Linked DNA regions of Homo sapiens: region 2 is linked to region 1. Evidence: fine-mapped expression QTL. Tissue or cell type: CD8 T cells. Region 1 holds a variant in brackets; the other region holds the start of a gene. All regions are shown on one strand. Distances are from middle to middle.

Region 1 (10,248 bases):
GCTAACTTTCAGATTTCTGCAGTGCTTATTTTCTCCCAGTTGAGGGTTGGTTTTTGTTTGTTTGTTTGTTTGTTTGTTTTTCCTGATTAAAAAGTAAGAATACGGCCAGGCGCGATAGCTCATGCCTTTAATCCCAGCATTTTGGGAGGCCGAGGAGGGCAGATCACCTGAGGTCAGGAGTTCGAGACCAGCCTGGCTAACATGGTGAAACCCAGTTTCTACTAAAAATAAAAAAAATTAGTCGGGCGTGGTGGTGCGTGTCTGTAAGCCCAGCTACTCAGGAGGCTGAGGCAGGAGAATCGCTTGAACCCGGGAGGTGGAGATGGCAGTCAGCTGAGATAGCACCATTGCACTCCAGCCTGGGCAACAGAGTGAGACTTCGTCTCAAATAGAAAAAAAAAAAGAAAAAGAATACATATACCTAGATACCACACAAGCATACCTTGGAGATATTGTGGGTTCAGTTCCAGACAACCACAACAAGTCACACAAATTTTTTGGTTTCCCAGTACATATAAAAATTACGTTTATACTATGCCATAGTCTATTAAGTGTGCATTAGCATTATGTCTAAACAATATACGTATCTTAATTTTAAAATGCTCTATTGCTAAAAAAGCTAACAATTATCTGAGCCTTCAGTGAGTCATATAGTCCTTTTTTGCTGGTGGAAGGTCTTGCCTTGAGGTTGATGAATGGTGATTGACCAGGGTGGCGGTTGCTGAAGGTTGGGTGGCTATGACAATTTCTTAAAATAGGACAGTAATGAAGTTTAAGTTTACTGCATTGATTTACTCATCCTTTCACAGAAGATTTATGTGCTACTGTTTGATAGCATTTTACCCACAGTAGAACTTCTTTCAAAAACGGAGGCAATCCTCTCAAACCCTGATGCTACTTTATCAACTAAGTTTGTGTAATATTCTAAATCCTTTCTGTCATTTCACCAGGAGTAGATCCATCTCAAGAAACCACTTTCTTTGCTCATCCATAAGAAGCAACTCCTCATCCCTTCAAGTTTAGCACAAGATTGTAGTAATTCAGTCACATCTGCAGGCTCCACTTCTAATTCTAGTTCTCCTATTTCCACCACGTCTGCAGTGACTTTCTCCATTGAAGTCTTAAAGGCCTCAAAGTTATCCATGAGCATTGGAATCAGCTTCTTTCAAACTCCTGTTAATGTTGATATTTTGACCTCCTCCCATGAATCACAAATATTCTTAATGGCATCTAGAATGGTGAATTATTTTCATAAGGTTTCAGTTTACTCTGCCCAGAGCTGTCAGAGGAATCACTATATATGGTAGCTATTGCCTTATGAAATACTTCTCACATAAGAGTTGAAAAATGACTCTTTGATCCATGGGCTACAGAATGGATGTTGTGTTCATAGACATGAAAACAACATTAATCTCCCTGTACATCTCCATCAGCACTCTTGGGTGACCACGTGTACTGTCAGTGAGCAGTCGTATTTTGAAAGGAATCTTTTCTTCTGACCAGTAGGTCTCAACAGTGGGCTTAAAATAAATATTCAGTAAACCATCCCATAAACAGATGTGCTTTCTTCTAGACTTTGCTGTTCCATTTGGAGAGCACAGGCAGAGTAGATTCAGCATAATTCTTAAGGGCCCTAGGATTTTTGGAATGGTAAATGAGCATTGGCTTCAACTTCAAGTCCCCAGCTGCACTGGCCCTTAACAAGAGGGTTAGCCTGTCCTTTGATGCTTTGGAAACAGACATTGACTTCTCTTTAGCTGCGAAAGTCCTAGATGATATCTTCCAACAGCAGGCTGTTTCATCTACACTGAAAATCTGTTGTTTAGTGTGGCTACCCTCATCAGTGATAGCTGGATCTTCTGGATAACTAACTTCCTGCAGTTTCTCCATCAGCAGTTGCTGCTTCACCTTCCACTTTTATGTTATGGAGATGGCTTCTTTGCTTAAACCTCATGAACTAATCACTACTAGCTTCACACGTCTTCTGCAGCTTCCTCACCTCTCTCAGCCTTCACAGAATTGAAGAAAGTTAGGGCCTTGTTCTGGGTTAAGCTTTGGTTTAAGGGAATGTTTTGGCTGGTTTGATCTATCCAGACCACTCAAACTTACTCCCTATCAGCAGTAAGGCCGTTTCACTTATCATTCATGTGTTCACTGGAATAGCATTTGTAATTTTCTTCAAGAATTTTTTCTTTGCATTCTACTGTTTGTTTTAATGGGCCTGCCTTTCAGCCTGTCTTGATTTTCTACATGCCTTCCTCACTAAGCTTAATCATTTCTAGCTTTTGATTTAAAGTGTGAGACAGCTGACTCCTCTTTTCATTTGAACACTTAAGAGGCCATTGTAGGGTTATTAATTGGCCTAATTTCAATATTTTGTGTCTCAGGGAATAGGGAGGCCTGAGGGGTAAGAGAGAGAGAGCTGCCATTCAGTGGCTGGGCAGTCAGAACACATGTGTACCACATTTATCGATTATGTTTGCCATCTTATGTGCGCTTTCTGACACCCCAAAACAGTTTCAATAGTAACATCAAAGATCACTGATCGGCTGGGCACAGTGGCTCATGCCTGTAATCCCAGCACTTTGGGAGGCCGAGGCAGGTGTATCACCTGAAGTTAGGAGTTTGAAACCAGCCTGGCCAACATGGTGAAACCCTGTCTCTACTAAAAAAAAAAAAAAAAAAAAAAAACGCTGGGTGTGGTGGTGGCAAATGCCTGTAATCCCAGCTGCTCAGGAGGCTGCGGGAGGAGAATCACTTGAACCCAGGAGGCAGAGGTTGCTGTGAGCCAAGATTGCGCCACTACACTCCAGCCTGGGCAACAAGAGAGAAACTCCGTCTCAAAAAAAAAAAAGTTACTGATTGATTGCAGATCACCGTAACAGAAATAATAGTAATGAAAAAGTTTGAAATATTGTGAGAATTACCAAAATGTGACAGCTGCATGAACTGGGCACATGCTGTTGGAAAAACAGTGCTGATAGACTTGCTCAATGCAGGATTGCCACAAACCTTCAATTATTAAAATACAAAAACAAACATGCATTATCTGTGAAGCATGATAAAGTGAAGCACACTAAGACAAGATGTGCCCATACTTGGCTTACTCTCCCTCATTCCCCATGACGTTTGTTCATTCTGCTTCTTGAATATGCCTTGAATTCATCCAGCTCCCTCCTCCCCAGCTAGCTGTACCTTGGCTGAGCCTCGTTTGTGTTGTACCACAAATACATCTTAACTGATCTTGTCTTTCAGCCTGATCTTCTCCAGTTTATTTTCCATATCAAAGCAAGAGTGAGCTTTCTAAAATGTAAAATCCTGATTGTGTCACTTCTCCTTTGAAGCTTTTGTAGTTTCAGTTACTTGGAGATTAAAGTCCATCCCTGCAACTTGTCTGACAAGCCCCCAGATGCCTTGGCTTTTGCTTGCCTCAACCAGACTGATTTTCTTTCCCATCCCCCTCTCCTTGCTTTCATCGTGCTGAACTCACTTCTCCCTCTTGTTCTGTCTCTTGGAAACCTTCACATTTGCTTCACATTTGCTGTCACATTGTCTGCCAGGATGGATCATTCTTCCTTGCCCACCACCTCCCTGCCACCCCCATGTTTTCACCTGGCTCCAGGTCTGTGCTTCACTGTCTTCTTTTTCTTCACCTTTCCCAGCACCCCAGACCCTGCTTCCTTGGATCCCATGATAGTACTCCTCCTATCCAATTATACCATGCTTATTTAATTGTCTTTCTCCTTAACACAATGTGAGTTTGGGTGGGCTGTGGCTGTTTTGCTCATCATTTTATCCCAGCTTCTGGCACATTGTCAGCACACTTCAAATATTTATTGGATGAAGTAATATTTGCAACTGTATTTCCTGTTTTGCAGTTTTATTTCTCCTTGTTTTCATTTAAGAATTTTTT[A/T]AAAAAAATTTATGTCTTAAAGATTTCCACAGATAAGATTACACAGGGAAATTTTTTTTCTTCAAATCTGTGGAACAAAACAAACAGGTATTGTGGAAGGTGGAAAAATCGAAGAGACACTCAGAAATCAAGGTTTCTGTCTGGAGCAATTTTGCAGTTATATGAAAGCGCTTATTTAAAAATGTTAACTTACCATAGTATTTATAAGTATCTTATTTTTTCAGATTACATTTTTCCTTCTTTCAAACCAAAACATAAGGAACCACAGTTCCAAAGAGCCTTTACCACCAGTCTCAGCGTGTTCTCTCCTCCTGTTTGATTTAGGATCTGGGATTGGCACAAGACTCTGCTACCAGCACAAAGAGCCCAATCCTTCTTGGCAGTCTGGCCCATCAGATCTACAGGATGATGTGTGCAAAGGGCTACTCAAAGAAAGACTTCTCATCCGTGTTCCAGTTCCTACGAGAGGAGGAGACCTTCTGAGTGTGCCCTTTGGCCACGGACACTGTTGGGAACCAAACTCTGTCTTGGAGCCTCCTTTTAGCTCACTCCACAAGTAAATGGATTTAATCAAAGGTCACCTATCTGCTTTTGATTGTCTAGGTCACAGTAATCCCTAGGATTTTTCACCGCTTATTCTTTTTGTCTTTTTAACAAACATATTATCCGAATTTTTTTTCTGCAAGCCACTGATAGTCTCTGCTAACTAGCTTAATTGACCTTTTTACAAAGTTTGATCCCCAAGCATCCTCAACTAAATCATTGAATACTTCAATCAGGATATTATCTGCTTTACTTTACAAATAAAACCAAATCTTTTGTCAACAGGATGAAACCCATCTTAAAGGAAAGAAAAGGAATTGGTGTGAAGAGAGAAGTTAGAGAAGGGAAATGCAGTGAATTACTATCTGTGTCCATCAGGAAGTTTGTCCTGTTAACCAAATGGTTACTGCACTACCAGGGTTACTGGTTTATTTTCCAGGGAGCTGATAAAGCAGGAGAACTGTTGCTGCATGTTTTCTATTTGGACTCCGTCACAATATGGTAGGATATCCCTCACCAACTCCCGACACTCAGCAGACTTGTTTTTATATTTTTTTCTTTCTTGTTCATTCTTACTACGTATTTTTTGACTTAAGAATGACATCTTTAGATGCATTTCAGAGCCAATGATGATATTTGCTTTAGATAATTATTATATTATTATAAATATAGCCATATTATTTTGAATTCAAATAAATTTCTATACTGGTAATACTTTCTTGGTGTTTTTGTTTCTTCCCCATCATTTGGTGAACTAATGTTCTGACAAACTGATGTTCACACTAATGGGGAAAGGATGGGAATAAAGAGAAAGGAGGGGAGGTCAAAAGGAACAAAGCTCTGAGTTGGCCAGTGGCAAGCTAGTGTTTTGCTGCTTTACCTGAATCCTTATTGAGTATTCGTTTGAATGTTTTTTAGGTCATCAGTTCTCTAGGAATTCAGCCAGCATTAAGTGTAACATGCCCCAATATGGAGCACAGTCACCACTTTTCCCACCTCAGCCTCTAGAAACATTCCAGGTAATAGACCTAGACACCAAATTTGGCAGAAGTATTACTACTTTCATCATTTTACTGGTGATAAAAAATTCCAGGCACTGTTATAAGTGCTGGGGATACAGTGATGAACAAGACACAAGATTTCTGCCCTTGCAGAGCATAAGTTCTGGTGTCTCATGTGTTTGTGACAGACAAGAAATATGTATTTTTCAGATAAGAAGAACTAAAAAGAAAAAGCAGGATAACGGGGATGGATAGGGAGTGCCAGGGGTATTTTCTTAGGGTGATAAGGAAAGTTCTCCCCAATAAGGTGTCAATTGAGCAGAGGTAAGGGAGTAAGCAATGCAGGTATCTGAGGAACAAACATTCCAGGCAAAGGGGACAGAAAGTACCAAGGCCCTGAGGTAGGACAGTACTGAATATGAGGAATAACAGGGAGGCTATAAGTGAAGTGGCACAGAATGAGGGTGGCCAGATCATATGGGGCCTTGCAGGGTATGTTAGGACACTGGCTTTTATTCTGAGCAAAATGGGCAATGTATCAGTTAGCTTTTGCTGGATAACAAATCACCCCAAAATTTAGTGGCTTAAAACAACAAACATGTATTGTTTTTCAAGATTCTGTGGGTTGGCCATATTATTATTCTGGCCTAGACCAGCTCATCTGCAGCTAGAGTGTCTAGTTTGGCTTTACTCAGCTGGGACAGCTGGAATGGTTGGGGCTTCTCTCCATGTTTTCATGCATTCTCCAGGAGGCTGGTATGAATTTGTTCACATAGTGGTGGAAGCATCCCAGCAGCAGCATAGGACAAGCCCTGACTTTCTAAGCCTCTGCTTGCTTCATGTTTGTACTTTCCCCTTGGCCACAGCAAATGTCATAGCCAAGCCCAGAATCAGCATATGTGGGGTCTGCATAAGAGTGTGGACACAAAGAGGGGCATTATGGTGGCCTTTTTGCAAACAGCCTATCACAAGCAGCCTGTGAAACTTTTTCACCAGATTGATGTGATCTGACCTACTTTTTTAAAGGGATCACTCTGGATGCTGTGTGGAGAAGAGTCTGTAGGAGCAAGGCTGGAAACAAGGAGACCAATTCGGAGGCAATAGTAATAACCCAGTTGAGAGGTGGTAGCTGGGACCAGAATGTTAAAATGATGGAGGAGGCAAGAAGTGGTTAGATTCTGAACCTAGAAAACAGAGCCACTAACTGATGGATGGCATGAGAGAGAAAGTAGGGAGTCAGGGATAATCCCACTGTCAGTGGCCTGAGAAAGCAGAAGAAAGAAGTTGCCATTTCCTATATGGGGAAGATCATGGGGGGAAGATTTGGGGAGGATTGTAGGAAGTTTAGGAGAAAAAAATCAGAGATTTATATGAGATGCCTTAATAGACATCTAAGTAAAGAAGAACAACAGTCCAAGGACTGAGCCCTGTGTTACTGTAACTTTAGTGGTTAGGAAAATGAGGGGGGACAAGCAAATGAGACTGAAGCAGAGAGATCAGTAAAGTAGGGGAAAAACATGGGAGCAGTGTCCCAGGAGCCAAATGAAAACAGTATTTTAAGGAGGGAATGATGATCTGTGAGTTGAGTAATAGGGCTGAGAATCATTTGGATTTGGCAAAAGAGCTATCACTGGTGACTTTTTCAAGAGTTTTGGTGGAGTCTTGGAAATGAGAGTTGGATTGAGAGTGGGAGAGGAATTGGAAACAGTAAGTATAGAGAATTCTTGAAGAGCTTTGCTGCAGAGGAAAACAGACAAATGGGATAGACATTGGCAGCAAATAAGGGACCAGGAGGAGTTTTATTATATTTTTAAAATAGGAAATGTTATGGGATTATACGGATGGAAGTGGAATGATCCAGTAACGAGGGGAAGTAATGGCACAACAGAGAGGCTACTTGCTAAATGCTGCCTTTCGAGTAGTTGAGAGGGAAGGGGTTTAACTGTGGCCAAATCTCTGCAAATTAAAGGAACCAGCAAAAACAGATCAGATCACATTTCAGCCCGTCAGCATCTTACGTGAAGGATAGAATAGAATTGTAATCAATTATACAGTTTTCAACACGAACAAAATATTTGTGCTGGAAAGGAATTACCTCTGAGTGTGACCCTGTACAAGCCACCCTCTACTGACCATTCATTTTCTCATCTATGAAGTTGTCATAAACCATCTAGCTTAATATTAAATGCTTTCTGGAAATGAAAACAAAAGATATAAGGACAATCACACATGATAGCAGCATATGGAAAAACTGGAACCCTTATACATTGCTGCTGGGAATATAAAATGGTGCAGCCACTTTGGAAAATAGCTCGGTAGTTCCTCAAAAGGTTAAACAGTGTTGGCACATGATCCAGCAATTTCACTCCTAGATGCATAAGGAAAAAAATATATCCACACAAAGCTTGTACACAAATGTTCATAGCAGCATTATTCATAATAGCTAAAAAGTGGAAACAATCCAAATATCCCCCAACTGATGATTGGATGAACAAACTGTCATATCTGCACAATGGAAGATTGCTTGGCCATACGAAGGAATAAAGTACTGATCCATGCTACCACATGGATGAACTTAAAAACATACCAAGTGAAAGGCGGCAGATGCAAAGGGCCACATATTGTATGATTCTACTTATTTGAAGTATTGGATAATAGGCAAATCCATACAGACAGTAGATGAGTGGTTTCCAAGGACTGGAGAGGGGGAAATGGGGAGTGACTGCTAACGGATATGGAGTTTTTTGGGGGGAGTGATGAAAATGTTCTGGAATTAATAGTGGTGGTTCACAACTTTGTGGATATATTTTAAAATCACTGAGTTGTATACTTGTAAATAGTGAATTACCTCTCAATTTTTAAAAAGCCTAAGGAAAATATCATGAGTTAAGATCTTTTGATAAGTGGTTCTCAACTGTGGCAGTTTTGCTTGCCAGGGGGGACACATGGCAATGGCTGGAGACATTTTTGGTTGTCCATTTTACTGGCATTTAGTGGGCAGAGGCCAAGAATGTTGCTAAACCTCTTATAATGCACGGGACAGCACCCACAACAATAGTTATCCTGCCCAAAATGCCAGTCAGGCAAAGTTTAAGAAACGCTGCTCTAGGTGTATGTTCCACAAGACCTGAACTCAGCATATCAAAACCTGAGCTCCTCATTTTCCCCCAAAGCCCTGCTTCTCCTTCTGGTCCTATCCCACGACTCCTCCCAGGCTTTCAGGACCCATCCCTGACTCCTCCATTCCTCCACCCATTCTCCTTAGCTAATTCTAAATCTCTAGTGCCTATTATAGGCCCTCACCAGTTCTTATCTAGGGCAGCAGTCCCCAACATTTTTGGCACCAGGGACTGGTTTTGTGGAAGACAGTTTTTCCATGGGTGGTGGTTGGAGGAATGGTTTTGGGATGAAGCTGTTCCACCTCAGATCATCAGGCATTCGATTCTTGTAAGGAGCACACAACCTAGATCCCTCACATGTGCAGTTCGCAATACGGTTCAGGATCCTATGAGAATGTAATGCAGCTGCTGATCTGACAGGAGGCAGAGCTTAGGCAGTAATGCTTGCTCACCGGCTGGCCACTCACCTGCCCCGCAACCCAGTTCCTAACAGGCCACGGACCAGGTCAGTACTGGTCCTCAGCCCGGGGGTTGGAGACCCCTGATCTAGGGCACTTCAGTATCTGCAGCGACACCTTTTATTTTCCCTAACAGCTTTTTAAAGGTATAGTGTACATACAATGAAATTTGCTCCTTTTATACAATGAATGGCTTTTCGTAAACTGAGAGTTTTACAACCCTCACCACAATTCAGTTTTAGAACATTCCATCACCCCTGCAAAATCCCGTGCATCCATTTGTAATCACTGCTCATTCTCCCGGCCCCCAGCCATTGGCAGCTACTAAGCTTTCTGACTCTAGATTTAAAGCTGCTTCTTGGCCACCAGCCTGGTTTTATTTCCCAATTGCTGAGCACTGCTGCAAGAGAGGTCTTTCTAAGACTGAAATCCAATCCGGCCAACCCTGTTTAGAATGTTTGAGCCTAGGATACAGTCTGGTCTCCAAAGCCATCCTGCTGGGGCTTCTATTTCACCAGCACCACTGCCCACAATACTTGTCTTTTCCCAAACGTGCCATGCTTTGCACACCTCAGTACATTTGCACATGCCATTTCTTCCATTTGGAATGCCGCCCCTTCTGGCACCGTGACCGGTTCAGCACTGTTGTCTTCTAAAAAGCCTTCCTCAGCAACTTCAGACTCAGTCGTTTCCACTCTGTTTTCACAGCAGTTTGTTGACATCTTTCTCATCATAGGACTTGCCCTGTTACATTATATTTGCAGCTTTGCTCATTTGTCTTCCTCACCAGACTGTGAGCTGGACGGCACAGAATGTGTCGTATCAGCTTTGAGGTTTGCGTTGAGTTCAGCACCTAGCATTAAGAGCTCAATAAGCGTTTGAATAAATGAATGAATGAGTGAAAGCTAGGGCATTACATTTATGTTAGGTGAATTACTGACTGCATAAACGTTTTCTTAAAGATTCTTGCTTAGCAGACCAAGTTTATTAGTCAAAAGTTTAGCTTATGCTGCTAAAACTGGAGAAATTCTGGAAGAGAGAGTATGCATTTTTGGTAGCAAGCTTAGTCTAAACTTTTATGTACTTGCATACAGTAAAGCATGCACCTATTGCCCCTTATGGAGTACAGCAGTTGCAAATGTAATCTTACATAACATGCTATGTAGACCTTGAGACATGAGGTGAATCTCAGAATAATCTAGGTTTGATTTACT
Region 2 (10,248 bases), 140 kb before region 1:
AGAGACATGTGTATACTAACCTGTGTCTATATACACATTGATAAATATTTCTATATGTAACCATCTGTATCTATATTAAGTTAAGCATGAGTTCATACTGATGTCTCCAACTTTAATCCATTTAAATAAATGCAATAATATGTACTTAGATTTGCTCTTATCTTAGGACACAACTCAATTATCTTACCGGTGTTTTGTGTTCCAAAATTTTTAAAACTGCCTAGAACAAAGACTTGTCATGCCATCCAAATCTTATGGCTAAGTGACTAAGTTCTGGCCAGTGGGAAGGACAATTGTGGGGTGGGACTTATAGGGAGGCTTCTGAAAATGAGAACAGTTTGCTGACACACCTCTTTCCTTTACTTTTCCCTCCTTTTCTTTCCTCTTGCCTGGAACTCAGACAAGATGGTTGGACCACTAGCAGCTATCTTTGATCATGAAGTAATTATGAGGTTAGAAAATCATTTTAGACAGTAAAACAAAATGAGAAGTTTGGAATTTTGACAACTCAGAGCTGTCAAACTGGCCCTGGTTCTGCCTACATCCACACTACTTTTATGAGAGGAAAAACCAAATTGTTATCATTTGGACTTTGTTTTATCCAACCAAACCTGATGCTGATAGTTTTTGAAAGTGACTTTAAATGTAGTTTCTTAATCAAACTGGATTGTTTTTATGACTGCTTATATATTATTCAGAAAAAGACTTCTTGAGGAAAGTCACTTTGAGTTGAGTCCTAACAAGTGGGGAGTGTAGAAGCAGTATTAGAATGTGTGGAAAAGAGAAAGGAAGGAAAGAAGAAAAGCAGAGAACCTGAGGAACTCAGAGTGCTCTGGGAAAGGGAAAGAGTACTGCATTGTCAGGGAGGTGAGTACAGAGAGAATGATATCTTAGGAATAGGCGTAAAAATGATTAGATAGTGTGGGTATTGTTGGGAAAGTCTTATTCCTCTTCTTCCCAGATTCTGAGATTCTGATGACAGGAATGTTAGATTTTTTTTTTTTGAGACGGAGTTTCACTCTTGTTGTCCAGGCTGGAGTGCAGTAACGCGATCTCGGCTCACTGCAACCTCCTGCTCCCAGGTTCAATCGATTCTCCTGCCTCAGCCTCCTGAGTAGCTGGGATTACAGGCGCCCACCACCATGCCCAGCTGATTTTTGTATTTTAGGTAGACACGAGGTTTCACCATGTTGGCCAGGCTGGTCTTGAACTCCTGACCTCAGGTGATCCACCTGCTTGGGCCTCCCAAAGTGGGATTACAGGCGTGGGCCACCACACCCAGCTGAATGTTAGATCTTTTGTTAAGAGTCACAACACATGCCCCTGAGCTTCGTGGCTTTTTTTTTTTGAGACGGAGTCTCGCTCTGTCGCCCAGGCTGGAGTGCAGTGGCACAATCTCGGCTCACTGCAAGCTCCACCTCCTGGGTTCACGCCATTCTCCTGCCTCAGCCTCCCGAGTAGCTGGGACTACAGGCGCCCGCCACCACACCTGGCTAATTTTTTTGTATTTTTAGTAGAGACGGGGTTTCACCGTATTAGCCAGGATGGTCCCGATCTCCTGACCACGTGATCCGCCCGCCTTGGCCTCCCAAAGTGCTGGGATTACAGGCTTGAGCCACCTCGCCCAGCGCTTCGTAGCTTTTTAAATCCCAGTCTAGTTTCTCTCTGTTTAGATTAGATAGTTTCTACTGTTCTATCTTCTAGCTCAGTGATTCTTTTCTTTATTCTGCTGTTGAGTTAAAAAATTGTATTTCTTGCATTTTTTCAGTTTTAAAATTTCCATTTATTTCTTCTTTATATGTTGTTTCTTTGCTGAGATTTCTTTTTATTTAATTCAAGCATGTTTTATTGTTTTATTTTACTTTTTGAGAAGGAGTCTCACTCTGCCATCCAGGCTGGAGTGCAGTGGCGTGATAGCTCACTGCAACCTCCGCCTCCTGGGTTCAAGTGATTCTCCTGCCTCAGCCTCCTGAGTTGCTGGGATTACAGGTGCCCACCACCACACCTGGGTAATTTTTGTATTTTTTTGGAAGAGATGGGGTTTTACCATGTTGGCCAGGCTGATCTTGAACTCCTCACCTCAAGTGATCTGCCAGCCTCGGCCTCCCAAAGTGCTAAGATTACAGGTGTGAGCCACCATGCCTGGCCTCAAGCATGTTTTAATTGCTTCTTGAAATATTTTCTGATGGATGCTTTCAAATCTTTGTTAGATAATTTTAACTTGTCATCTCAGTGTTGGCATCTATTGTCTTTTTTATTCAGCTTGAAATCTTCCTGGGTTTTGGAATCATGAGTCATTTTTTAATTGAAATTTGGTATCATGAGTGATTTTTTGTTGAAATCTGGACATTTGGGTATTATGATATTTTGGATATTATTTAAACCTTTTATTTTAACTAGTTTTTCTTGACACTGCTCTGGCAGGGGGCATCAACTTGTAAATGGCAACTGGTAGTAGAAGTCTAGGTTCCTTATTCCACCTCTGTTGACACCAAGGGTGGGTGGTTCCTTGTTACTGCTGGGCAATGGTGGGAGTTTCAGCTCCCCACTAGTTGTCCACTGATACTTCCCTAGTTGAGAGGGCTTGGAATGGCTCCTTACTGCCCCCATGTAGCCTCCAGTGACACCATGGAGGGGAAGGGGTGTGACATCCTTACCATTGGGCAGTGATGAAAGCTCTGACTCTCCAATACACCTCCAATTACACCATCTAAGCAGGGAAAGGGAGGGGTACCTCACCACTGTAAGGTAGGAGTGGAAATCCAGGGTCGCCCTGTGGTTTCCAGTGACACTGAGAGTAGGGAAGGATGTGTGTGGAGGATTACTTGTTACTGCCCAGTTGAAGATGAAAATCCCATACCTCTCTTTGGTTTTCTCTGACATCACCTTAGAGGGGTTGAGGAGTAGAGCGATTGGGGTGTTAGGATGCTGGGGTGTCTCATCACAACCTGGAGAGTGTGGAAGTCTAGGCTCCCAACTCAGCCTTTGCTTTATGGGGTGGGGTCAGTGTGTGTATGTATGTGTGTATTGTTTGTCTACAGTGGAGTGATTATCTTCTAAATGTTTCCTTTCTTGCTAGGCCACTCCTTTTTCATCACTTGGCTAGAAAGAGCAGCCTTTTATTGGGGCACTTTTTGTCTATCTATGCTTCCTGGCATTTTGGGGTTTCTGGTTTTGGCTTCTCCAGCACCCAGTTTGGGGTATATAAGGCTACATGAAAACCCAAGGAACTTCCCACCGTGTTGCTCTCTGGACCCTAGCCAGTGTGACTTCTCTCCACCTTTCAAAGTCTCCCTATGTTTATCTTATATATAATGTTGAGTTTTTAGTTGTACTTAGAAGAATAGGGAGAAACCTATCTACTCCATCTTCCTGGAAGCGGAAGTCAGGGGCCACTATAAGGCATTGAAACAATTACAAACAAAAATGCGTGGCAAAGACTCAGGGAGGAGTTGCAGTGCCTTTCAAACAAGGGCATCAGGAGGGCAATCAAATGAAGAAAGCTAACCAGCCATAGGCAGGAACTGCATTTGCCAGTACAATAATATCTGCAAGCACCTTCAAACAGTAAGAATTACTTAAAAATTCATAACGCTTCTTTAAAATCATGGAAACCTATGAAAATTCCTTAGTTTATGAATCAATGTAGGGCTTCTTGGAGGAGACATTGTTGGAGAAGACAATGCAGGGCTTCTTGGAGGAGACACAGTTGAAAGACCAATTGCAGTTCAGGAGTTAATTATAGAAACCTGTAGTGCTGGAGGAAGAAAAAGAAAAAGAAACCTGTAGGCCCACATTTGTTGCCTGCAGGAGATCTATTCCAGCTAAAACCTGACGAAACCAGGAAGAGAGGCACAGGTGGGAAATGCTCCAGAAACTAATTTACCCCTAGTAGGGGTGGGGACCCAAATCTAGGAGAAGGTCTAATTGTTGAAATGAGTTTTTTCTCCCTCCCTCCCTTCGTCCCTTTCCTTCCTTCTTTTCATTTAGTGTTGGGTAGAGGGTTGGGGTGGAGTGATGGTCAAAGAAGGGCATTAACTTCCTCCCAGTTACAGATAGGGACCTTGCACTCTGTACAAGTTTTTAAGTTTTTGGAAACGTTGCCAGCATGCCCAGAAACATGAAAAGAGCCCAGATGGAAATGATCCAATTCCTTTGCTTTCAACTCCATGGGTTACTGAGTTGAAAAAAAGGTCAAAGTCAAATTTTGTTGATTGTGCTACTTAGATTGGGGTTCGCATTTCCCTAGCTACTCCATACACATTCTCTTTCCTGCTGTATTGCCATTCTCCAAAGGCTATAGTCTTGCTTTGGTGTGGTCATGGCTTCCAACCCTTTGGTGGAGTCAGTGGAGATGAGAAGGCCTGCAATTACCCCCAAGGGGTTTACAGACTCAAATATGTACACTAAGCATTGACAGAAGAATGACTAAATGTCTGTCTCTCTGCACCGCGCAGTGGCTCACGCCTGTAATAACCAGCACTTTGGGAGGCCGAGGCGGGCGGATCACTTGACGCCAGGAGTTTGAGACCAGCCTAGGCAAAATGGCGACACCCCGCCTCTACTCAAAGTGCCAAAAAAATTAGCCGGGTGTGGTGGCGCACGCAGGCCTATAGTCCCACCTCACCTACTCCGGAGGCTGAAGCAGGAGAATCACTTGAACCCGGGAGGCGGAGATTGCAGTGAGCCGAGATCGCGCCACTGCACTCCAGCCTGGGTGACAGAGAGACTCCGTCTCCAAAAAAAAAAAAGGTCTTTCTAATACACATACATATACTACTACTTTCTGGATTTTATATTTAGTTTTGCTTACAAAATGGATTTAGGGTGTAGAATTTTCAAAGATTAGAGAAATATGCCTTGAAATAGAAAGTGCAAGTTTCTAGTAACTCTTCCCTTCAAAGATAATGTTACCAACTTCTTTTCCTACTATTTTTAGTATTGAGAAACTGTTGTGTTAAGTAAAATCAAATGAATTTAAAAGTTATTACACACATGGTAGCTTTCTGAGTGTTTTTCAAGCTGCGAGTCAGTTTTGTCCTTTTTAACACGCAGCGGTTGTGGGGACAAGGTTTCCGAGGAGGCGGGAGCGAGCGACGGCCCCCGCCTCCCACACGCCCTCTGCTTTGGTAAACAAGGAGACTCCCGCCCGCAGGCTGTAAATGAGGCACGAGCTTGGGGGCAGCGCCAGGGCGCCTGGCGTCACTGTTCAAAAAGGCCTCTTATTGGTCCTTCGCACAGCTGCGGACCTGGGAATTCTGATTGGTCTGCTTCCCTGTCCGTAAAGGGATTGACAGGCCCTGCCGCGTCAGGCCGCTCCTCTCGGCTCCGCGCTCCTTCCCTCGCGCGTGGGCACCCGCCCCCGAGCGGTGAGAGCGCGTGCGCGCGCGCCCTTCTCCGTGGGCGAGCCAGCCAGTCCCGCTGCACACGCTCGCAGTCTGTGGGCCCTCCGGGAGGCGGCGGAGGTCACCGCGGGGAGAGGGGCGGGCGCAGCATGGCAGCCTCCTTACGGCTCCTCGGAGCTGCCTCCGGTCTCCGGTACTGGAGCCGGCGGCTGCGGCCGGCAGCCGGCAGCTTTGCAGCGGGTAAGGACCTCACGCCTCCTCCCCCTTGTCCTTCTTTCGGCCGCTCGCTTCTTCTGTCCAGACGGCCGAAGAAGTCTTTTCTCGGGAGGCCCTGCGGTTGGGCTGGGGCTTAAAAAACAATATTTTGGCTGGTACTAAAGGCCTGTCCTTTTCTGCGGCCGCCACTCACTCCGCGAGTACCCCCCTCTGCCTTCCCTCCCTTTCTCCCGGGCTCCTGATGAACGGGTTCAGCGCCCTTTTCGGGATTTAGGAAGAGGTGGGGAAGAGCTTGGGCTGAAGAGAAGAGAGTATTTGGGACCCCGGCATGCTGCTTTGGAGTTAGGACTCCGAGGACGTTTGGAGCGCCCAACTCCAGGAGCAACCCGCACTCACCCCAGCGACCCCTGGTCTTTCAGCGCCCCCAGGGTGCACCTTGGGTTGGGGACACACTTGGGCAGCAGGGCCTGATGTTTAACCACCTGAGTCCGAGGGGATGGCCTTATTACACAAGCGGTGGCTGTACAAGCCAGGCAGTAAGTCTTTCAGCAAAGTTTCAGTCACCCTTGACCAGCAAGACGGGCTTCCCCCCTCTACTGTAACCTAAAAAAATGTCATTTTTGTCAAATTATGAACCAAAACACGTTCAGCGTCCTCAAGATTGTGGGCAGAATTAATCCTGCCTCCCTCCTCTCATACCATGGTAAATTGTGGAAGCTAGCCATGAACTTACAAAGAGGCAGTTTTTAGAGCCAGGATGAAGATCCACGGAGATCTAATACAGTCTTTCATACTCCGCACGAGGGACATGAGGCCCCTTGGATGAGTGAATCAGGATATTCCCAGCAAGACCTAGAAAGTTGTTATCAGTTGTTCCTAATTCCTTAACTTTCTATCACACCAGGACTCCTCTTTAATTGAAAAATTGGTTGATTTGTGGGGGCACTGCCGTTGTCTTCCTCAAACTGAAAGTTTGAGAGTTGTAACAATGCATCGTTTAGCAAGATCATACTGAGGATTAATAACAAAAAAAACCTTGGCATTAATTTTTTCTAATCTTTGCTTAAAAAAAAAATAGTGGGTTAGGATTTGAGCCCCTTGGCCCCCCGCCCTTTTTTTTTTTTTTTTTTTTTTTTGAGACAGGGTCTCTGTCGCCCAGGCTGGAGTGCAGTGGCCCAGTCACACTGCTCACTGCAGTCTCGACCTCCTGGGCTCAGGTGATCCTCCCACCTCAGCCTCCCGAGTAGCTGGGATTACAGGCATGTGCCACCACGCCCGTCCAATTTTTGTATTTTTAGTAGGGACGGAGTTTCGCCATGTTGCCCAGGCTGGTCTTGAACTCCTGCGCTCAAGTGATCCTCCCAAAGCGTTGGGATTATAGGCATGAACCACTGTGGCTGGCCAGGAATTGTAAGAACTTTCTCTTACAATTCTTAACAGCTTCCCATTCTCCCCCTCAGTGAAACCTCTGAATTTCCTTTCTGGCTGGAGAAGAACAGAGGCTCGGTGAGATGCAAGAGACCAGATGTCTGATACAGAACCACAGTAACAAGATAAAAACTCAGAATATGCCAAACTTGAATGTAACCACTGTTTGAGCTTCATATATTGAGCTACAAAAATGCTTCCGACTTTTGAGATAACCCTAAAAGAATAGACACTTTTCCACAGTAGCACCAGTTTTCACATGAATTCACAATTCTTTCAGTTCCCATTAGCCAAGGAAGACATATTTGCTGTTTAGTGGTTTTACAAGGTGTTCTAATGGTATTTTAATGAACCCTTGATGTACCTTTTAGAGTTATGAAAGTTCTTACCAATTCATGGTGAAAGAGCCTGAGGCCTAAGACTGTAATACGTGCCTCTGTAAACTGGGAGGGCCTACCTCAGAGTGCTGATTAGACTACTTTGGCATATGGTCTTGTACTTTGGGTTCTTTGGCCCAAAGGTAATTGTCAGAATATAGATTTCTGATAAATTTTAAATAGTTCTTTTGTGATGAAGTGGTTAAATCACTTAAGCAATTTTTTTTTCTCTTGAAAAAAATTTTTTTTTTTCCCTCGGAGTCTTTGTCTGTCGCCCAGGCTAGAGTGCATTGGCGCAATCTCAGCTCACTGCAAGCTCCGCCTCCCAGGTTCACGCCATTCTCCTGCCTCAGCCTCCGGAGTACCTGGGACTACAGGCGCCTGCCACCACGCCCGGCTAGTTTTTTGGTATTTTTTAGTAGAAACGGGGTTTCACCATGTTAGCCAGGATGGTCTCTATCACTTGACCTCGTGATCCGCCCGCCTTGGCCTCCCAGAGTGCTGGGATTACAGGCGTGAGCCACTGTGCCCGGCCTTTCTTTGGAATTGTTTTAAACATTTAAATTTCTGTTAATTTTAGTTTACTGCAAAAGTGTTAACTTTTCTGACATTAGATTCTTAAAGAGTAGAAAAAAATCTGCCTGCAAGTTTGGAGTCAAATGACATTAAGAAAAAGAACCATGTTCAGATAGTAATGTGTGATGTTCTGAATTCTGTTGGATATTTGTAGTATGTTTAAGATGTTTATATCATATGAATGATAATATTATAAGGAGCTATATAATTTACTGTTTAAAAAAATGAAACCTGAAAGTTGCCGGTTAGTAGCACATCTTTTTAACTTTTTTATAAATACATTTTAGAGACAGGTCTCCCCGTGTTGTCCAGGCAGGAGTACAATGGCACCTACTTAGCTCACTGCAACCTTGAACTCCTGTACTCAAGTGATCTTCCGCCTCAGCTTCCCAAGTAGTTAGGATTGCAGGGTGCACCACGATACCTAGCTAATTTAAAAAAAAATGTTTTTTGAGACAAGGCTAGTTGCCTACTACGCTGGTCTAGAACTACTGGCGTGAAGCCATCCTCTTGCCTTGACCTCCCAAAGTGTTGGGCTTACAGGCATTAGCCACTGTGCCCAGCCTGCCACATCTTAATTTTTAAATGTTTGTTTGTTTGTTTGTTTGTTTATTTGAGATGGGGTCTCTCTCTCTCTCTTGTCCAGGCTGGAGTGCAGTGGTGCAATCATGGCTCATTGCAGCCTCAACCTCGTGGGCTCAAGCAATCCCCCTGCCTCAGCCTCCCAAGTAGCTGGGACCACAGGTGCACACCACCACACCTGGCTTTATTTATTTATTTATTTTTTTTGTAGAGATGGGGTCTCACCATGTTGCCCAGCCTGGTCTTGAACTCTGGGGGTCAACTGATCCTCCTGCCTCAGCCTCCCAAAGTACTGGGATTACAGTCATGAGCCACTGTGCCTAAGCCTAATTTTAAAATACTTAAAGCATTGAAAAGGAAATAGAAGAATGAGAAATGTTAAAGTGTACATGTATTACTATTTCATCACCTGTTTGATAAAATTGTGTATGTTATTTTAGAAGGTAATTAAGTTTAGTTTCAGACTTATTTGTACAGAGAAGAAAATCTACAGCTATAGGCCCTCTACAAAATGTCACGTTGTGACTCTACAGCTTGTACATGGAAAAATAAATCACATCAGATCATCTTGAGGTGACCACCTGACCAAAGGTAGAATGGAAAAATTAGCATCATGTATAGAAACAGGAATACAATTTTTAATATTATTGGTCCTTTTTGTATATGTGAAATTTACTTTCAAAGTAGCATAACTCATTGGATAAATCAAATATATAATGGCAGTTTTTCCCTTTACATTAGCTTCTAGGGCTGCACATGAAGTTCTGAAAAGCTGCTCATGGTCCGGGGCCTAAAAGTTGACCCTAAACTTGTGAAATTACATAAGGAGCGTATTTATTACTAAAATAAGTTGACTGAAACCGTAAAGGCCTTTATAGAGAAAGTCGTCACCCTTAGTTTAGTAACTGTTAATAGTAAAGCAGATAGAGTGCTTATGACGTAGTATTATGTGATAAAATAGATATAAAAAATGTATTATGTGATAAAATAGACATACATTGTATAGAAAATATAACCTTATGATATAATGAAAAATGCAGTCAAAAGACTGAAAGTCCATGCAAAATGTTTTTTTTATTTTTGTGTAATGAGATTGCTTCCCCTTACAACTGTATACTTTTTCATTCTAGTTTTCTACAATGAAAATGCATTACTTTGAATAGAAAAGAAGCCTCAGAAATGTAAAATAATTAACTTGTTACCAATTTTTGCATTTTGACACTTAGTGAAACCTGCTTTTTGATAGCACTTAAGGTTATCAAGATACGGATAACTCCCCTTGTTACATTGGAGAAAGAGGTCATAATCGGTAAATTTGCATCTATAAATTTAGAAACAAACTTTGCCAAGTTTTCTGGCTAGTTTCTTTTCATTCGTCCTCAGTAATAGACACTAATGCTAGTTTCTTAACCAGTGAACCAGTATCACCTTTGTATTTGGTTGATTGATTTTCTCCCAGCTTGGTTTTATTTATGTTTTAACTCTACTTTTTCCACGCACTACTGTCAGAAGTTATTTAAAGAGAGATGCATTATTTAGGTTTGAGAGTTTTTAGGGCAATAATCATTCCATTATACTCATGGATTTCTGCCCCTTTGGGTGCAAATTATTTTATATTTGCCAAGCGCTTATTCAGGTGTTTCACCTTAACTAAAAGCTTTCTTTCCCCAGATACAGGGCTTCTCCTACAGTCATCTATACTTTTTTCTATCTCTTTGGCTCTT

Alleles and levels. Positions count from the first base shown, and alleles are read on the strand shown. Sizes are in standard deviations (SD) of each study's normalised expression.
As copies of T replace A in region 1, the expression in CD8 T cells of the gene that starts at base 5,400 in region 2 goes up (moderate effect, 0.45 SD a copy in CEDAR).

What was found. PIP is the estimated chance that this variant, and not a neighbour inherited with it, causes the effect.
Region 2: it holds the start of HIBADH, and the variant in region 1 is fine-mapped to the expression of HIBADH in CD8 T cells (CEDAR, PIP 0.95). The same link has a PIP of 0.9 or more in CD4 T cells.

What each region holds. Positions count from the first base shown.
Region 1 is chr7:27,520,362-27,530,609 of GRCh38, reverse strand. HIBADH (3-hydroxyisobutyrate dehydrogenase) reads left to right here. Exons shown (of 8, transcript NM_152740.4): 8 at 4,238-5,168. The coding sequence ends at 4,396. Among named protein-coding and RNA genes, the nearest start is that of TSL, 90 kb to the left of the region's middle. RefSeq lists an enhancer at 3,025-3,602. The variant A/T (reference allele first, on the strand shown) is at 3,914.
Region 2 is chr7:27,658,035-27,668,282 of GRCh38, reverse strand. HIBADH (3-hydroxyisobutyrate dehydrogenase) reads left to right here and starts at 5,400. Exons shown (of 8, transcript NM_152740.4): 1 at 5,400-5,585. The coding sequence starts at 5,495. The region is part of intron 2 of LOC105375211 (a long non-coding RNA gene); the gene reads right to left. RefSeq lists a silencer at 5,211-5,630 and an enhancer at 4,846-5,663.